Linked DNA regions of Homo sapiens: regions 2 and 3 are each linked to region 1. Evidence: fine-mapped expression QTL. A gene starts in region 1. Each other region holds a variant in brackets. All regions are shown on one strand. Distances are from middle to middle. Region 1 holds the start of ANXA4 (annexin A4). Region 2 overlaps AAK1 (AP2 associated kinase 1). Region 3 overlaps ANXA4 (annexin A4).

What was found. PIP is the estimated chance that this variant, and not a neighbour inherited with it, causes the effect.
Region 2: its variant is the best candidate, but not a certain one, in a credible set for the expression of ANXA4 in fetal neocortex (Walker 2019, PIP 0.77).
Region 3: its variant is the best candidate, but not a certain one, in a credible set for the expression of ANXA4 in whole blood (TOPMed, PIP 0.53).

What each region holds. Positions count from the first base shown.
Region 1 is chr2:69,740,197-69,744,437 of GRCh38, reverse strand. ANXA4 (annexin A4) reads right to left here and starts at 2,304. Exons shown (of 13, transcript NM_001153.5): 1 at 2,263-2,304. RefSeq lists silencers at 2,036-2,275, 2,486-2,665.
Region 2 is chr2:69,615,105-69,619,345 of GRCh38, reverse strand. The region is part of intron 2 of AAK1 (AP2 associated kinase 1); the gene reads left to right. Among named protein-coding and RNA genes, the nearest start is that of AAK1, 27 kb to the left of the region's middle. The variant G/A (reference allele first, on the strand shown) is at 1,954.
Region 3 is chr2:69,802,110-69,806,332 of GRCh38, reverse strand. It overlaps ANXA4 (annexin A4), which reads right to left. Exons shown (of 13, transcript NM_001153.5): 4 at 1,706-1,800. Among named protein-coding and RNA genes, the nearest start is that of SMANTIS, 5.2 kb to the right of the region's middle. The variant T/C (reference allele first, on the strand shown) is at 1,524.

The DNA of each region.
Region 1 (4,241 bases):
GATTCTACTTCAAAATATATCTGTGATTGTTTTAGTATAAAAAGTGTTTTTTAATTTCAAATATTTGTGTAAAAATGACACTCAAAGAAAATCTCCTCCTCTTGTTTTTGTTTGTTTGTTTGTTTGTTTTTCAGACAGGGCCTCACTCTATTACCCAGGCTGCAGTGCAATGGTGTGATCATAACTCACTGCAGCCTTGAACTCCTGGGCTTAAGTGAAACTCCCTCCCAGCCTCCCAAGTAGCTGGGACTACAGGTGGGTGTCACCATGCCCAAGTAATTTTTAAAATTTTTGTAGAGACGGGGTCTTGCTATGTTGCCCAGGCTTCCCCACCCCTTGTTTATTCTGGAACTTCAGGTACTCCCTGGCACACTGCCCACAATCCCCAGTGCCTGCCACTCATCTTTATCTCCCTTGGAGAAAAGCAGGCTTAGTCTAAAAGCAGATAATAAATGAGCTCAGGAAAACAAATGAGTGGCTGGACATAAACAAAGAAACATGCCACTGGACATGAGCCTGGGGATGACCAGGAGGCTCACCCTTTAAACACCAAGGCCTGGAGTGGTACATGGCTTGACTGTGCGGGTTACTCTCTAAATTGCTTGCAGAGAAACATTATCCCTAACCAAATGCAAGAACATCTAGGAGGGAAATTCACAGAAGCCCTTGATCCAGTAGTTGTGTGTCTGTGCCTGTCTATGTGTGGGTGGGGGCAGGGGTGTACTTGTGTCTCTATCTTCAATCAACAGAAATCTGACATGAGCTGAATGAGGATGGCCTTGGCCTGATAGGGCTCTGGAGAGTCAGCAGCTCTTGGGTCATGGGGTTATCCGTTTTCTTATCCCTGTCCACTTCCTCTCCTACTTGCTCTTCCACCTGTGTCTGAGAATTCCCTGGCAACTAAAAACCTAGGGTTTGGCCGCTGGGCACGGTGGCTCATGCCTGTAATCCCAGCACTTTGGGAGGCTAAGGCAGGTGGATCACCTGAGGTCAGGAGTTCAAGACCAGCCTGACCAACATGTTAAAACCCCATCTCTACTAAAAATACAAAAATTAGCCAGGCGTGTTGGCACACGCCTGTAGTCCCAGCTACTCGGGAGGCTGAGGCAGGAGAATCTCTTGAACCCAGAAGGCGGAGGTTGCAGTGAGCAGAGATCATATCACTGCGCTCCAGCCTGGGCAACAGAGCAAGACTCCATCTCAAAAAAAAAAATCTAGGGTTTGGTTATCAATAGAGTTACCAGTTACCTCCTGAATAGCTGAGACTATAGGCACGTGGTGGCATGCACCTGTAGTCTCAGCTACTCAGGAGGTTGAGGTGGGTGAAACACCTGAGCCTGGGAGGCAGAGTGAACTGTATCCAGCCACTGCACTCCAGCCTGGGCTACAGGAGTGAGACCTCGTCTCAAAACAAAACAAAACAAAAAATTAAAGGGCAAACAGTAGGGAGTGGAAGGGGGTGGTGGGGTGTCATGGACTGGTGGGCAGGAGAATGGATAACTTGGAGAGGGACACCTTATCTATCCTTCCCACTGTCAGCAGGAGAGAGCAGATGCCCAGTTCCATGTAAAGCACGAGTTATGCAGGACCCACTCTGCTCTGTCAGCTCAGAAGACTTGCATTGCCCCGGGGGTCACTTCTGCCGGTAAATGGTTGAGAAGCCTTCCTCCTTGGCACCAAAGTCTCCAGCTGGTCAAAGTCATGACAAAATGCTGAGACTGCGCCACCAGCCAACTCAAGTCATGGACCCTATAATAATCAGACTCCGATGTGCCGGGCACTGTGCCGAGGGCATTAGACACACGAGAAGGTAAGAAAGTGGTAAGGATCTAGGAGAAAGGAGTAAGTTTCTTAAATGGAGTAAAGAATTAAAAAGTAAACTGTAAGAGGTGTTAGGAGGAGTTAGCTACAGGCAAGATTATCTCGGTCCTTTCTTTTTGATGCAAAGCCTAGCACATGGACTGAATAAATAACTGCCGTGGTCTCTGACCCGCGTCCTGAGCCGTGTAAGCGGCCCTGGATGTCCTGGATGGTGCCAGCGGTTAAGCACCGCGCTCGCCTCCCTCTCGCCCACCCGGAGCGAGTCCAGGGCCCGCTGGCCCCCTCCACCCTGTGGCCGCCCGGGCTTGCCCGCAAGCCGGCGGCGAGCACCCACTCTGGGGTGCAGCGCGGAGCCGGGCATCCCCGCGAGACGCTCCCGGGCCACGCTCCCCGTTCCCTGAGCCCAGGACCCCCGGCCCGGAGCCCCTTTACCCCTCGTACCGAGGCCGGGCTGCGCTCCTCCTCTGCGGCTGCGGAGGTCACACCCTACTCAGGGCCAGACAGCGGGTCTTATCCGGGACGGATCCGCCCCACTGTGGGGTGGAGACTGAGCCCAAGTTCCTGGTTGTTCCTCTGCCCACGAGACCGGAAAATCCCTCTCTAGGGGAAGCGCACCTGGGGCCCCGGGCCGGGACGGCCGCGCCAGGAGCTCTCGGAGAGGCAGGCCTCGACCCCCGGCGGGTCCGCCCTCCACACGTGCCTGCTCCCCAGGCCCGCCCGGTCCCCCGGCCTCGCCCCCTGCCCGGATTGGACAGTGTCCCCAGTATCGCCAGCCCCGCTCCTGGCCGCGCAGGGTGGGAGCAGTTGGATTCTTGGGGTCCCGTTTCCCGGGCGCTCCACACCCTCGGAGGGCCGAGCCCGGGCCACCTCGCCAGTTCCTCCCTGCGCCTGCCGCGCCCAGCTCCGCGCCAAGCCGGAGTCCCGCGGCAAATCCGCGCTTCCCCCCACCTCGGGAAACCGTTCGTCTCCCAACGGCAGGTCGTGCCGAGCCCGTGGCCGGAAAAGTAGAAAGTGAAATCTGAAGGATACATTTCATTCCCCTCTTTCACATGAAAACACACATTCCCAAAAGTTTCCAGCACTTCCCTCTTCCCTGTGCGCCCAGCAGGCCAGGAAAGCTTTGGAGTAGGAGTTAGGAGCAGCCCCGGATCTTTGTACTCCTGTGAGTGACTAAAGTTTAGACACTGTCCGTAGCTCCCAGGTTCGGCTTGGCGCGGCGCTCATCCCTTGTAATAGTTCTGTGTTTTCATATCTGCTTCCCCTGCTGGACGCAGCCTCTTGAAGACACCAACTAGGGCTAGGTCGTCTTTGCACCCATGCCCAGCACCGATTTCGCCACGTAGTGAATGCTTGCAGAATGAATCCGTTGAGTCTATAGGCAAATTCAGTTTTTTTAAAAAACAGAGAATAGCCCGTTTGGGGAGTGTTTTCCATCCGACACATCAAAATCTAAGTGGTTAATGGCACCCTTAAAGCTGGAGAGGTAACATTAAATTATTTCATTAAGATGTAATTTTAAAAGGTGGTTTAATATGGTTTAGAGCACGGGTTTTAGGATCAGACTGATTTGGATACTAAAACTGGTTCTGCCTCTTTTATCTGCATATGATAACTTAAAAAATTAAGGCTGGGCACAGTGGCTCATGCCTGTAATCCCAGCACTTTGGGAGGCCAGGGCAAGTGGATCACTTTAGCCCAGGAGTTCGAGATAAGCCTGGCCAATGTGGTGAAATCCCATCTCAAAAAAAAAAAAAAAAAAAACATATATATAGCCGGGTGTGGTGGCATGCGCCTGTAGTCCCAGCTATTCAGTCGGATGAGGTGGGATAAACACCCAAGCCCGGGAGGCAGAGGCTCAGTAAGCTGAGATTGCGCCACTGCACGCCAGCCTGGGCGACAGAGTGAGACATTGTCTAAAAAAAAAAAAAAAAAAAAAGAGGAAGAAAGAAAAGAAAAAGAAAGAAAAAAAGAAAAGAAAACAAAAAATAAATAAATAATTAGCCGGGTGCATAGCCACGCCTGTAGTCCCAGCTACTAGCCAGGCTGAAGCAGGAGGATCACTCTAAACCCAGGAGTTCAATGTTGCTGTGAGCTATGACTGCACCACTGCACTCCAGCCTGGGCGACAGGGTGAGACCTTGTCTCAAAACAAAAACAAAAACAAAAACAAAACAAAACAAAAAATTAAAGGTCAAACAGTAGGAAAAAAAATGAAATACAGATAATTCATTTCTTAAGCAAGATTAGAGAGACACTGCATCCCTTACAAGCAACAATTAGGCCAGGTGAGGTGGCTCAGACTGTAATCCCAACACTTTGGGAGGCCCAGGTGGTTGCTTGAGGCTAGGAGTTTGGGAGATTATCCTGGGCTACATGGCGAAAACCTGTCCCTAAAAAAGAAAAAGAAAAAGAAAGAAAAA
Region 2 (4,241 bases), 130 kb after region 1:
TGGGGGTAGGGTGGGAATTGAAGGCAATCATAACAGATACCCTCAATTTTCTGGAGTAAGGAGGCAAGGTTGTCTGCCGAGGATAGTGGTAAGTATGGGGCTGAGGATACTCCTGAGAGTTGGGTTAGTCATCGAGGGGAATGAGAGAGGGAGCTAACCAAGGACAAGGAAAGGACCCAAGCCAGGATGGACACCATGAGGCAGTCTTGTAAGGCTGTGTGATTTGAGGTTAGGAACAGAGCAGGTGGATTTAGCATTGATTCAAGGTTGGGGAGGTGTGAGGGGAGGCTAGGAGTGCACAGAAATCAAAGGAGCAGTGTAGATGGTCAACCATGGGGCCAGAATGGGGAGACAAGCCTGTCTAAGCAGGGGGTTGATTGGTTGATTGAAAGAAAATGGAAGAGTCAGAGCATGGAGGACTGGATGGTCAGGCCAGAATGAAAGCCTAAGGGAATGGAAGTCTTGGAGGGTGTGTCAGAATGGGGGAGACTGATGTTTAAGATTTGTGTTGACAAGGTCTAGAGGGTGGCCATGGATGTGTAGGTCATTGAGAGGACCAAAGGTCAGTGTCGTGAAGAAATCTGGAGGCTGCAGTTTAGGAATAAGTGGATTTTGAGACCACCCAGAAAGATGGTAGGAGTTGCAGTGGAGGGAAGCCAAGATGCTACAGGCATCCGTGAATGTTAGAGACTGAGCCAGAGGGGGAAGTACAAAGGCAAGGCAGGGTGGAAGCCAGTGTAGCCACGTGGCATGAGCTCAAAGGAGCAGGAATTTTTACATGAGGGTGGAGGAGTGATGGTTTGGAGTCAACTCAGGAGAGCAAGGAAAGTTCTGACCTCCTGCGCTAAGCTACTGAGGCGTAGGAAAATATGGCATCAGAGGGCTAGTGATGCAAGTGATATTGGCTGGTGCAGGAGCAGGACCGAGCAAGTTGGATGATTTATCCTTTGGCTTGATTGTGGAGCTAAGTTGTTTTTATTGTTAGGTATTTATAATTTATGGCATTTATTTGGCAGCTTAACTTCCTCTTATTAAAAGGAACCCATTTTTATTTTGCATGTATTTTACTTATATATTAGTATATTGAATATTATATATTTATTTATATCTCTACTTATATTTAATTTTATGTGTACATGAATTCTTTTTTCTCCTTTGGGTCTTGGCTTTGTGACAAAAAAGACCTTGCATGGTCGCTGTAGAGGCATCTTCAGGACCTGGTTTTGAATTTGCTTTTTGTATTTTATTGCTGGGAGCTCCTGCTTACCTTTCACTTTTATGCCCTCCTGGTCAGGTTGGTTGCCTCATGGTTCTTTTTTATCACTAGACTAATGATTAATTCTTAGTGAAGCCCTTCACCTCAGAGGTTGCTGAATGATGAAGGACCACTTCCCTGAATCTTTGCTCAGCAGCCTCGAGATAAAGGAGGAGGTATGACTCTGTCAGCCAAAAAGCCTAATCTTTGAGTTGGAAATGGTTTATTCCTTGTATATTCTTTCTAGGTGTTAACAAACCAAAATAGTAGAGGCATCTCCATTAAATGTGGCCTCTTCTATACTCCTAATGCTTCCAGCTCTTCACTTTATCCCTTCACAGGAGCAGGCACAGCGTGCTGCTGGGAATGTCTGTTCACTTCTTTTACATGTGATTAGTTGTTCCTGATGTTTGCACTCTCATACACTCAAGCATGTGGCACATACCTCTTTAGGATTTGCTGCATCTTACAATAACGATTTATTTATCAGTCTTCTAAGCTGTTCTCCCTTCATCCCTGACCCAACTTGGACTCCTTGAGGGTATGGTTAGGTTCTCACTCATCTTTTTGTATGCTTTTAATAAGTAGGTATTTAGGAAGTAGGTATTAAATTAATGCATTAAACTTAGAATTCAAACAGCCTAACTCACAGATCTTGCAAAGGAGAAACTATGCCCAGAGGATTAAATGGCCTGTCC[G/A]AAACTACACAGCTAGGTTCAATTGGGATTAGAATCCATTTCTCCTCTCAAGCTTGTGGGGTCTTCTGAAAGATTAATGTCAAAGCAACTCGATGTGAATTGATTGTGTTCCTTAAAGTTAGAGATAATTGAATTCCTTGAAAATTCACTTATATCTTCTAGGGATAGGGGCTTTCAACCTTTCATTTCACCTGTTACCCTGTTTGGGGGTGGTGTGATGGTTTGGAATTTTGTTGTTCTTGACTGAGATTAGAGAATGAGGGCCTAGGCACAGGGAGGCTCTGTTCTGCTTGTCAAACCAGTAGGTTTGCTTTTTCCTTGACCTATACCTTAAGGACATCCTTCTATCTTGTAGGTGCTAGTGGAGCTATGTTACCATACACTGGGGATAGGATGAGGGCCCCTGGATAATCTGTGGCCTGGCAAGTGACACAGGCAGAAAGCAGCATGTCCAGGTCCCTCGTGGGTGGCTTGGGGGAACTTGGGGTTAGAAAAAGGGCATTATAACCAGGTGCTAGAAGTTCACAGATAGGTCATTTGTGGCTGGTAGGATTGGCAGGAAACAATGAGTCACACTGGTAGGTATACAAGGGATAGAAAAAGAAGAAATTTTTGATAATTGCTAGAGAGCCCTTTTTCCATTTAGACCAGTAGGTCTCAATTGTGGCTGTTTTGCCCCCCAGGAGACACTTGGCAATATCTAGAGACATTTTTGATTGTCACACCTAGGAAAGGGCTATTACAGGCATCAAACGAATGGAGGTCAGGGATGCTGGTGAATATCCTGTAGTGCATGGGATGGGGATGGCCCCCATAACAGGGAATTATACAGTCCAAAGTCATGAGCGTCCAGGTTGAGAATCCCTGATTTACACCCTGGGCCCCAACATCAGTACTCTGGTGGTTACTTAAGTCATAAAAAAAATAGTTTTTTATATATACTTTACTTTGAACTCTATTGTTAAATGGCAAAATCAGGTTTATTTCACCTTTTTCTTTTCGTTCTTTTTTTAAAATGGAGGCAAAATTCACATAACATAATTAACCATTTTAAAGTGAACAGTTCAGTGGCATTTAGTACATTAACAATGTTGTGCAGCTGGGCATGGTGGCTGGTGGCTGTGATTCCTGCTACTCAAGCGGCTGAGGTGAGAGGATCACTTGAGCCCAGAAGCTCAGCCTGGACAACAGCAAACTTCATCTCTAAAAGAAAACCAGAAACCAAAACTAAACATAATGTTGTGCAACCACTACCTCTATCTAGTTCCAAAACATTTTCATCGCCCGAAAAGGAAAGTGGTACCCACTAATCAGTTTTTAGTACAGACAGGGTTTTGCCGTGTTGCCCAGGCTGGTCTTGAACTCCTGAGCTCACATGATTTGTCTGCCTTGACCTCCCAAAGTGCTGTGATTACAGGCATGAGCCACCATGCCCAGTCACTATGTTTAGCTTTAACATAAAATTTACCATTTTAGTATTTAACCTTTGATATAGACTTGTCATTCCACAAACACATTTTAAGCCCCATGTCATGAGGGCACTGTTGAAAGCACTGCATAAATTATGATGAACAAAACAGTTATAGGTGTTTTTCTCCTAGAGCTTACAGTCTAGTGGGGAAGGCAGACATTGAACTCCCACCAGTAAGTTTTCAAGTCCGGGAAGTGAATTTAGCTGTAAAAGTATAGGAGTTGAAGCCAGTGCAGTAGGATTGACTGTCACAGTTTCTTGCTTTCCACTTTCTTTCTGTGTGAGTACAGTTTCTTTCATATAAGAGCAAATTCATAGCCAAAAAGAAACAGGGAAGGAAGAAATGAAGAAAATAAATGAGAGAAAGCAAGACCCAGGAGCGAGGAGGAGGGAGGATTGGGGAGGTCCTCCCAGGAAATCCCGTGTTTCAGGTTCTTCTAGAAACTCCTCAGGCCAGTTCTTAAAACATCTTCCACTGTGGTCTGTCTTTATCTTTTGAGTCATATAGATGGGAATGGTATTTCCATTTGGTTAAATGGTACTGGGTTAAAAAGCAAAATAACATACCCTGCCTCCCATCCTCTGTGTCTCTCATAAGGATCAGAGCCCAAGTGACATGAGGTCAGCTGAGTGCCCAGCAGGACTGAACTATTCTGGCCTGCGGGGCTTCTCTGCGAAGTCCCGAGAAGTGGCTAAGCTGAGGTCGAAGTCCACATGGAAAGGACAGCACCAATGGGCATGCAGTTTCCTTGGTAGACTATGTAAGTGAAAACCCTAGAAGGAAGGTTTTTGATGGTGCCCATGAGGAAAGAGGACA
Region 3 (4,223 bases), 62 kb before region 1:
TACTCTCCAGGTGTGGTCCAGGGATGTCTGGGGTCTCCAAGACCCTTTCAAGGGGCCTGCAAGTCAAAACTATCCTCAGAATAACACTCAGATGTTATTTGCCTTTTCACTGTCATTCTTCCACAAGCATACAGTGGGGTTTTCCTAAGGCTATTTGACATTGTCTGTGCATCAACAACTGTCTGTTCAAATACTCCCCCCATTTTCAAGTACATATCTGTACAAGCCAGATTTTCTTCATATACCCCAACCAAAACCACATATCATAACAAATTGAAGTAGAAATAGATATGAGAAGCCATCTGTCTTCCATTAAGCCAGACATTAAAGAGATCTGCAAAATGTAAAACAATGCCAATCTTCTCACTAAATGTTTTTTCGTTTTGGGATATATAGCTATTTTTCATTAAAATGTTATTTACAGTAACATACAATATACTTATTATTTTTACTAAGTTAACAAATATCTATTTTTAAATGCCCTCAGTTTTAGTTTCTAATAGGGCAAATATCAAAAGATATAACCCACAAAACCAAAAGTCCTAAAAAATTTAAGAGGTAAAGGAACTTTGAGGTGAATATGTTTGTAGACACCGATGTAAATGTATTTGCCTACTTAACAATATGTCTTGAATATACTTCCAAGTCAATATTCACTGATAACCTTTTTAGCAGCTGTGGAGATTTCTATAGATAGGTGCAACATAATTTCTTTTTTTTTTTTTTTTAGATGGAGTCTTGCTCTGTTGCCTAGGCTGGAGCGCAGTGGCACGATCTTGACTCACTGCAGACTCCGCCTCCTGGATTCAAGCGATTCTCCTGCCTCAGTCTCCCAAGTAGCTGGGATTACAGGTGCCCACCACCATGCCCAGCTAATTTTTTTGTATTTTTAGTAGAGACGGGGTTTCACCATGTTGGTCAGGCTGGTCTCGAACTCCTGACCTCAAGTGATCCACTCGCCTCGGCCTCCCAAAGTGCTAGGATTACAGGTGTGAGCCACCACACCCAGCCTAATTTCTTTAACTAGTCACCTGTTTCTATTTTTCTACTGTTATATACATAAGGCATTTAGTTGTATCTTTGTGATCATTCATGACTATTTCTTAAGGCTCAATTCCTGAGATATAGTTTCCAAATATAATTATTTGGAAAATGGACCAAATTCTAAAGATGTTTATTCACATTTCCTCCTGGAATGGGTCAGAGAGTTTAAGAACTTGTTTAAGATCAATTGACGAAGAAGGAGCTGAATCGCTATTCTTTTTTTTTTTTTTTTTTTTTTTTTTGAGATGGAGTCTGTCTCTGTTGCCCAGGCTGGAGTGAAGTGGCATGATCTTGGCTCACTGCAACCTCCACCTCCTGGTTCAAGCAATTCTCCTGCCTCAACCTACAAAGTAGCTAGGATTACAGGTGCTCAGCACCATGCCCGGCTAATTTTTGTATTTTTTAAGGAGAGATGGGGTTTCACCATGTTGGCCAGGTTGGTCTCAAACTCCTGGCCTCAAGTGATCCACCCACCTCGG[T/C]CTCCCAAAGTGCTGGGATTACAGGTGTGACCCACCACACCTGGCCTCAAGAACATCTTTAAACAAGACAAAGGATCGATCTTTTAAAACACAAGGTCACTTCGGGAACCTAGATCAGGAAGAGGCCCTGCTTCCTGTTGCTGCGAAGTCAGCCAGACAGAGCAGGAAAGACTGTGGCCTACCCTGCCGATGGTGCTCTTGTAGGCTGTCCTGATCTCCTGGCGCTGGGCGGTGTTGCGGTAGGCAAGGACGCTAATAATGGCGTCTTCATCGGTGCCTGGGGGAAGAAGGGAGACAGCAGGTAAGTGTGATTTGAGAGAGGAATGAGAAAGCAGGTTCCTCTGTGGACATTGGAGTTACCCAAACACATGCAGAGGGCTTTCTAAGAAAAGAGGCCCTTATTCAGAGGGTTTGTCTACTTTTTGGGAAACAGATGCTAGGTTCGGGACTTAGCCTCTCCTTTAATTAGCTGTTTACTACTGAAGAAAATGGTTAACTTTCTAAACATTAGTTTCCTTATCTGCAAATGTGAATGATGACAGTGATTTCCCTCGATAGGCTGCTGCAAGTGTTAATATAATTAAATGCCTAGCACTTACTAAACATTTAATAAATGTTGGCTGGAGTAATTTTTTCTCTCCTCTAGAATATTTTTTTTTTTTTTTTTTTTTTGAGAGAAAGTCTCACTCTGTCACCCAGGCTGGAGTGCAATGGCGCGATCTCAGCTCACTGCAACCTCCGCCTCCTGGGTTCAAGCGATTCTCCTGCCTCAGCCTCCTGAGTAGCTGGGATTACAGGGCTGTGCCACCACCCCCAGCGAATTTTTGTGTTTTTAGTAGAGACAGGGTTTCACTATGTTGACCAGGCTGGTCTTGAGCTCCTGACCTCAAATGATCTGCCCTCCTCGGCCTCCCAAAGTGCTGGGGTTACATGTGTGAGACACCACGCCCAGCCATCTCCTCTAGAATTCTTTTCATGTCTTTTGAATCTCCTCTCTCTCTCTTCCATATTCTTGCCTTTTTTTTTGTTTTTATCTTTTTATCATCTCCTCTGAGTTTTGAAACAATTCAAACTTGTCTGTTAATTCACCAATTTGGCATTTTGCAGAGTTTAAGTTGGCTGTTACTGCATTCACTGTGTTTTAAAATCTGGAACTATGTTTTGCACTTCTAAGCTATCTTTCCTGAACACAAATGGTTCCCTTTTAGAACTGCTGACAAATTACCATGATACAACATCTTACCAAAACTTTAAGCAAAAATTACAAATTAAAAATGTTCTAAGTTTTGCTTGCCTGTTTCTTGCAGCAGCTTTAACAAGGAGACTTTATTCTGATTTTTCAGATTGGTCCCTTGTCTTTATAACAGCTGGCTGTTCATAAATGTTTGGTGAATCTTCTGTTTCCTCGTTGTTTGTGCTGTATGGGGGGTTGGAATGGGTTTCAGAAATGATTCTATTGAAAATATTTCAGGGAGAAATGAAAAAATACAGCCAAACTTTAGTTATCCTTGGCAAGGTTAGAGATGCAAAAAGATGTGAGGTGTGGAGAGGAAGCTATAGAACTTTAAGTTTACATACCTTGGGGACCTACTTTCTGTTCCTTTTTTTTTTTTCTTTTTTTGAGATGGAGTTTCGCTCTGTCACCCGGGCTGGAGTGCAGTCCAGCTCACTCCCTCTCCCTCCCAGGTTCAAGCAATTCTCCTGCCTCAGCCTCCCTAGTAGCTGGGATTACAGGTGCCTGCCACCATGCCTGGCTAATTTTTTTTTGTATTTTTTACTAGAGATGGGTTTCACCATGTTGACCAGGCTGGTCTTGAACTCCTGACCTCAGGCGATCCACCTGCCTCAGCCTCCCAAAGTGCTGAGATTACAGGCATGAGCCATCATGCCCAGCCGTGTTCCTATTTTTAAAAAGGAGAGGACAATCCATATAACAATCAATTTCTCCCTTGGCACTCTCAGCTAGGAGGGGGTGTGGAAGGGGCAGAGAGGGTTCATTACCTTTTGTTCATTCCCTGTTTCTGTGAAAGGGATCACTCTTCCCCCCAGTCAAGCCAAGCTGAAATCCTCAAAATAGATTCAATTTTTTTTTTTTTTTTTGAGACAGAGTCTTGCTCTGTGGCCAGTCTGTAGTGCAGTGGTGCCATCTCGGCTCACTGCAACCTCTGCCTCCCGGGTTCAAGCGATTCTCCTGCCTCAGCCTCCCCAGTAGCTGGGACTACAGGTGCACGCCACCACGCCCAGCTAATTTTTGTGTTTTTAGTAGAGACGGGGTTTCACCTTGTTGGCCAGAATGGTCTCGATCTTTTGACCTTGTGCTCTGCCCACCTAGGCCTCCCAAAGTGCTGGGATTACAGGCGTGAGCCACTGCACCCAGCCCAATAGCTTTGATTTTTTTACCCTCTCCTTTCCTCTTCATTCAAGTCCACGGTCATGCAAAATGTTGCTTTACAGCCTCTTTTGCATTCTTTCACTCTTTTTATTTCCTATCACAACCATTCCAATTCAAGATTTCAGGGTTTCTTCTTAGACAAGTGCAGATGTCTGCTAACTAGTATTCTTAACTCCTGGTTGGTCTTCCCAGAGTCTTGCCAGATTCATTTTTGTAAAAAGAAAAACTCTCACAATGTCTCTCCCCTGCTCAGAAATACACAATGGCTCCCCATCATCTGCTGGATTTACTTTAGGCACTGCAGCCTG